Regions from separate parts of the Homo sapiens genome. Here region 1 is linked to region 2. Evidence: fine-mapped expression QTL. A gene starts in region 2. The other region holds a variant in brackets. All regions are shown on one strand. Distances are between the middles of the regions. Region 1 overlaps LOC105376528 (a long non-coding RNA gene). Region 2 holds the start of OR51E2 (olfactory receptor family 51 subfamily E member 2).

The links.
Region 1: its variant is fine-mapped to the expression of OR51E2 in left ventricle (GTEx, PIP 0.97).

What each region holds. Positions count from the first base shown.
Region 1 is chr11:4,670,208-4,673,138 of GRCh38, reverse strand. It overlaps LOC105376528 (a long non-coding RNA gene), which reads right to left. Exons shown (of 3, transcript XR_930990.3): 3 at 880-1,118. Among named protein-coding and RNA genes, the nearest start is that of OR51C1, 26 kb to the left of the region's middle. The variant T/C (reference allele first, on the strand shown) is at 1,556.
Region 2 is chr11:4,696,560-4,699,490 of GRCh38, reverse strand. It overlaps OR51E2 (olfactory receptor family 51 subfamily E member 2), which reads left to right and starts at 1,638. Exons shown (of 2, transcript NM_030774.4): 1 at 1,638-1,838. OR51C1 (olfactory receptor family 51 subfamily C member 1) reads left to right here and starts at 1,638. Exons shown (of 2, transcript NM_001396051.1): 1 at 1,638-1,838. The coding sequence starts at 1,830.

The DNA of each region.
Region 1 (2,931 bases), 26 kb after region 2:
GCTTCCTGGGTGTTTTGGGAGCTGAATCAATTCACTGAGGTGGTCCTAGACAGCTTCTTCCGTGAGAGGCTTCCAGAATTGGGAGTCTCAGGCAAGTGGTCACTATAGTGAGAGTATCTTTCCCAGTGAAACAGGGTCTCCAGGGACTAAGGACCATAAAAACATTGCCCTTTTCCCAGCCATGTTTATGTTGGCCTGGTCAGTGGAGGGTACCAGTTTAGGTGGCCAATTCCCCCGGAGAGCCACAGTCTGAGGTTGCCCAATAAATAGGACAGCTCCCATCCCCCAGTAATTTCATCTAGCCCCCATCTCTGAGCAGCACATCATCTATCCCAGACTAGATTGATAAGAAATAAGAGAAGAACGTAAATGTGTTTGTGTCTGGGGATAGATATTTCCTTAGGCATTTTATTATTGTAAGAAAAGATTTACACTCAATATGTATTTATGACCAGAGATTACCAGCATCACATATTTGGGATTCTTTCCGACTATAATCATCACCAATTCTCCCAGCTGGTGCTAAAGTTATTGCCCAGTGTCCGTTTCTTAATATCATTTAATGTTAAACCTTCAAGAATGATTGACAATGTTTGGCAATGTTTGAGGACCTAAAATATAAAAGAAACAAAAAAAAAATAGTGGATATTACAATGAGTATCAGATATAAAACCAAATGTATTGAGAGCCCTCAGTGCGCCCATGGAGGAATAAACAAGGTACAGCAGCCACAGAGAAGGGAGAAACCAGCTTTGTTGTGGAGATGAAGGAAAGCTTCATGAACAGGTGACATTTAAACAGGGGCCAGATTGAGGTTTGGGGGAAGTAAGTGAGATTAAAGCAGAGGGAGTATACGGAGACATCAAATAGTGAGGTGACTTCTGACAATGCAAGAAGATTTTATTGCCAGAGCATAGGCCACGTGTTCCCCTGAGTTCTCCTAAGACAAAAGCCTAAGAGCAGCTACTCTACTGGGGACTGGACCCAGTAAGCAAAAGTCAGGGACAGGGAGTTTGGAGCAGCGAAAAGGGAGAGCCCAAACAAACATGCATTGTAGAGTTGTCCACATAATATGAGACTGTTGCCAGTTCTTGCAGTACTTGCCCATAATCTTCTTCCTGGGGGAAGTAAATGAAAAGTAATTATTCCTCCTGTATTCAATTAGTTAAGAATTGCTCCACAGAGCATTAACTCCCAAAACTGGCAGACTGCCTATGCTTGAGTATTCAGTGGGTTCCCATGGGCCCCCACGACAGAGCATCAGAGGAGAAACCCCAGGGTCCAGATGAGCCTGTGACAGGCTGCACCTGCACAGAACTGGTAGCCATAGCAGTGGCTGAAATGGGAATTGAAGTTGCAGGGATTTTAAATGATTTACAATTATCTCAGTAGCCAAGGCTGAATAGATGAATTAAAAATCTTAAAGGAGACTCCTCCCACATTGGGGAAGACAGAATAGACATATTTTCCTATTTATTTGCTAAGAACATGTTTCTATTTATTTGCTAAGAACAACTAAAAACCTTGGGCATTGTGTATAAAACAAACACAAAAT[T/C]CCAAGGGTAGACAAGAGGCAGACCATCTAAGGAGCTTGGGATATGAGGAATGACATCATGAAATAGAGGAATGACATAGTGGTCATCCTTAATGATTGAATTTTCTTCTTACCTCATATATCTGACTTGGAGCTGAAGAAACTGACAACACAGAAATGCTAATGTGCACAGATAGTAAAAGCCCTCTCAAAAGCCTGCTCCCTCTAGCCAATGAAAGGGGAATCCTAGCAAGGCAGAAGATTTCAAAAAACCACTTTACTCCGGCAAAACACTGCAGAAAAAAAAACAAACTGTGACCACATGACCCCCAACTCATGTCAGCAAAGGCCAAATGGAGAACCCAGACTTCCAACCTCATGAGGCTGTAATGAGGCACCCAACACCCTCCTCAGGGTGGTGGTATCAGAGAATGTCGAATAGGCAGTTGAGACTGTCATTCCTGCCAGCCAATAATGAGTAGCCCCTTTCTCCATGGTGTCAGTGGAAACCATGTGGGTGCCTGGATTTCAACCCTCACTGGGCAGTAATAAGATGTCCATCCCATCCCCCATGGGATGATGGCAGAGGAGGCCTAGTAGAGAATCAAGATATTCACCGCCACCCCAGAGTAATGAGGACCCTCACACCATGTAATCATAAAGAAAATGTGGAGAAAATACCCATCTTCACTTAGTGGTAATAAATCTCCCACCACCAGTATCAACGGAGACCAAATTTAAAAAGAATAAAAGTTACACGCAATATGTTCTCCAATACAATGTAATCACAGAAAGATAACTTGGAAATTCCTAAATAATTAATGATAACAAAAAGCAGTCTCAATGGAAATAAAAAATAATTTGACGTGAATAAAAATGAAAATAAAACATACCAAAATTTGTATAACACAGATAAAACAGTGCTGAGAAGAACATTTGTAGCTTAAATGAATATATTAAAAAGGAAGAAAAGTCTCATATCAATAATCTAGGCTATGCCATCAAGAACCAAGGAAAAGAAGAGCAAAACAAAACCCAAAGCAAGTAGAAGGAAATGATAGAGATAAGAGAAGAAATCAATAAAATTAAAAACAGAAAAAAATAAATAAAATCTTTGAAACAGAGCTGATTCCTTGAAGAGATCAATAAAATTAATAAGCTCCTAGCAAGACTAACAGAGAAAAAAGAAAGAAGGCATGAATTAATAATATCAGGAATGAAAAGGAGGTTATTATTACAGACTCTGTGTACATCAAAAGAATAATGAGGAAATACTACAAACAATTCTATATACAGAAAAGTGGACCACTTCCTAGTAAAACACAAACTACCACAACTCCCAAAATATGAATATATAATTTGTAACCCTGTAACTATTAAGAATTGAATTTTTAGTT
Region 2 (2,931 bases):
ATCAAATCCTTCTCATGCTGCCATCTCTCTGGTTCTCTACTTTTAAAGACCCGTGTGACTATATTGGATCCACCCAGCTAATCCATCTAATCTTGCCATCTCAAGTTATTTAACTTTAATCACATCTGCAAAGTCCCTTTGCAATGTAAGGTGACATATTCACAGGTTCCAGGCATTAAGACATAGGTATCTTTAGGGGCCATTATCCTGTCTACCACAAACACTTGGCCTAGTATCATGGATGTAGAATGCATAATAAAATATTATTGTTCTTGTTATTTATTGTTTTTATTACATTATGAAGAAGAAAATATCTCAGGCCATGACATTTTCAGTAGTGAAACAGATTTGATAGTGGAGAGGAGATAATATCGGAAGCAGGGAGAATGGTTAGGAAACTACTGAAGTTACCCAAGTGAGAGATAATTGTGACTTAAATAAAGGTGACATTTCTGGAGATGATAAACAGTGATCAATTTCTGATTGTATTTTTCAAAGAGATTGACATAATTTACCAATGGATTAAATGCAGGGTGTAAGAGACAGAAACTGAGAATGAATCAAAGACCCATATGCCCAAGTGTGGTCCAAATTGGTGGGAATATCTAAGGATCTAAAGAGGCCATAAGGAGAAAAGATGGACAACTTATAGCAATCTATGCATTCTATTTATTAAAGACTAATGAGAGTGATAGTAAACTGACAGAAGGTGACATCATTGGCCAAGTCAATCACCCACCTACCTGCAATTTTTCTTGGTATAATACAAGATTTTCAAAATTTGACTATAAGTAGAGAGAACCCCAAATTATTGTGACTAATTCTCTTCAACCTGGTAGGTTGGGACTTCAAAATACGAAATAGGTCAAATTATAAAAAAGTAAATGAAACCGTATTTTATACACAAGTAAGTTGTGAACCAAGATTTTTACCTACTGTATTCACCAAGCATTTGGTTCATGCCTCTAGGATAACCTTATCATTGGTTAACATGTAATTATTGGTTAACCTGTCTATCTTCTACACTAAAATCCTAAACAGTAAGAATTATGGTGTATTCTTAAAAAAAAAAACTCTATCACTGAGTATAATGTTTAGAATATGGGACATTCTTATGAAATATTTACTGGATATATGTATGGATGAGTAAATGAATTATTTTTTATCTGTAAGAGAAAGACTGCTGCTGCAAAGAACCACAGGTGGGCTAATGAAACCATACTGCTGTGAATAATCATAGATACTGAGGAGTTAAGGGGTGGAGTTGGACTCTCACTCATAATGGGAGATGTCATTTAGCAATTTGCTACAATATTTCGTTTTTTAAAATCTCCTTCAGAGTGACTGCTAGTGATTATGAGGTTCCTTTTAAGGGTAATAAAAAATGTTCTAAAATTGAATTGTGATGATGGTTCTTGCACAGTTCTGTGACTTTACTAAAAAAAATTGAATCATACACTATAAATGGGTGAATTTTATAGTATGTGAATGATATAACAATAAAGCTGTTAAATAAAAAAGCTTTTGAGTGAAATGACACATGAAAAAAAGGTTACATCAGCCCATAAAGCACATAGCCACCGTAAGTAATTGCATAATGGAACAGATATAAAAGGACTGTATGAGGCAAAAGAAGTCTTCTGGGAATCTCCACACCCTGAAGACACAGTGAGTTAGCACCACCACCAGGAATTGGCCTTTCAGCTCTGTGCCTGTCTCCAGTCAGGCTGGAATAAGTCTCCTCATATTTGCAAGCTCGGCCCTCCCCTGGAATCTAAAGCCTCCTCAGCCTTCTGAGTCAGCCTGAAAGGAACAGGCCGAACTGCTGTATGGGCTCTGTAAGTAAAACTGTTTTGTTCAATGAAAATGCTTGACTCTAGATGAATTGGACTTTCTCACCCACAGGGAGTAATTTCCTCACAATGTGCAGAATTAGATTAGATGTTGGTATGGTGGGCTGAGGAGGACGGTAGAATTTCAGAATTATTTATTCCCAGGAAATACGTAGAGAATGGGTATTTCGTTCTGCCTGATATAGGTTAGATAACTTGTTTTTAGTCAAATGGTTTAATCAGTGTGCTGATATATTTATCACAGTCAGTGAATCTCATTTCTATGCCCAATAACTATTACTAAAAATGAAAAGTTACCAATTTCGAACGCATTGCCTGCCAGCTACTGGTATTAGACACAGCGCATATCCTGTCTTATAGATGAGGAAACTGGGTCACAGAAAGTTTATATTACTTGTAGATTTCAGTAAAACAATTGTTTTTGAGAGCACGAGCTTTGGAATTAAAAAGACCTGAGTTAAAAATTCAGCTCTGACTTTCACCAGTTGTATGTGATTTCAAATATGTTTCAGACTTCTGATACTCAGTGTCTTTACCAGAAAAATGAATTTAAAGTGAATCTAATAATACTTGTCACATGATGACATAGTAAGAATTAAAATAATGCTTATAAAGCACTGAGGACAATAATGTTCACAGAACACGTGTCCAGTAAATGGTAGCTATTTCTATGAGTAATATTTTTATTAATGGTGTAGATGGTCTCAAAACTAGTTAGTGTTTGAGCAAGAATCTGAACCCAGGTCAGTCACACATGATAGCCATACCATTGACAATAGCATGGAGAATACTGATGACACTATAAGGTCTAGTTCAGCAGATTAAGACAGCCACAAGCTATAGCTTATAATAGTGCAATGAAAGAGGAGCATCATTGTAATCCGAGTGGGCAGAAAAATTAGTTGAGAGAATATAGCTTATTTCACAAGAGAGAAAATGAAAGTATATATGGATTGGAGAGGATGGGTCGGAAAGATTCTAGAGTGAAGGCAGCACAAAAGAGAAGCTTGGGGGAAATTTAGTGCCTCCTTCTAAGGATATTCATTAGTCCCCCTCTTGTCTTGAATATAAACACTTA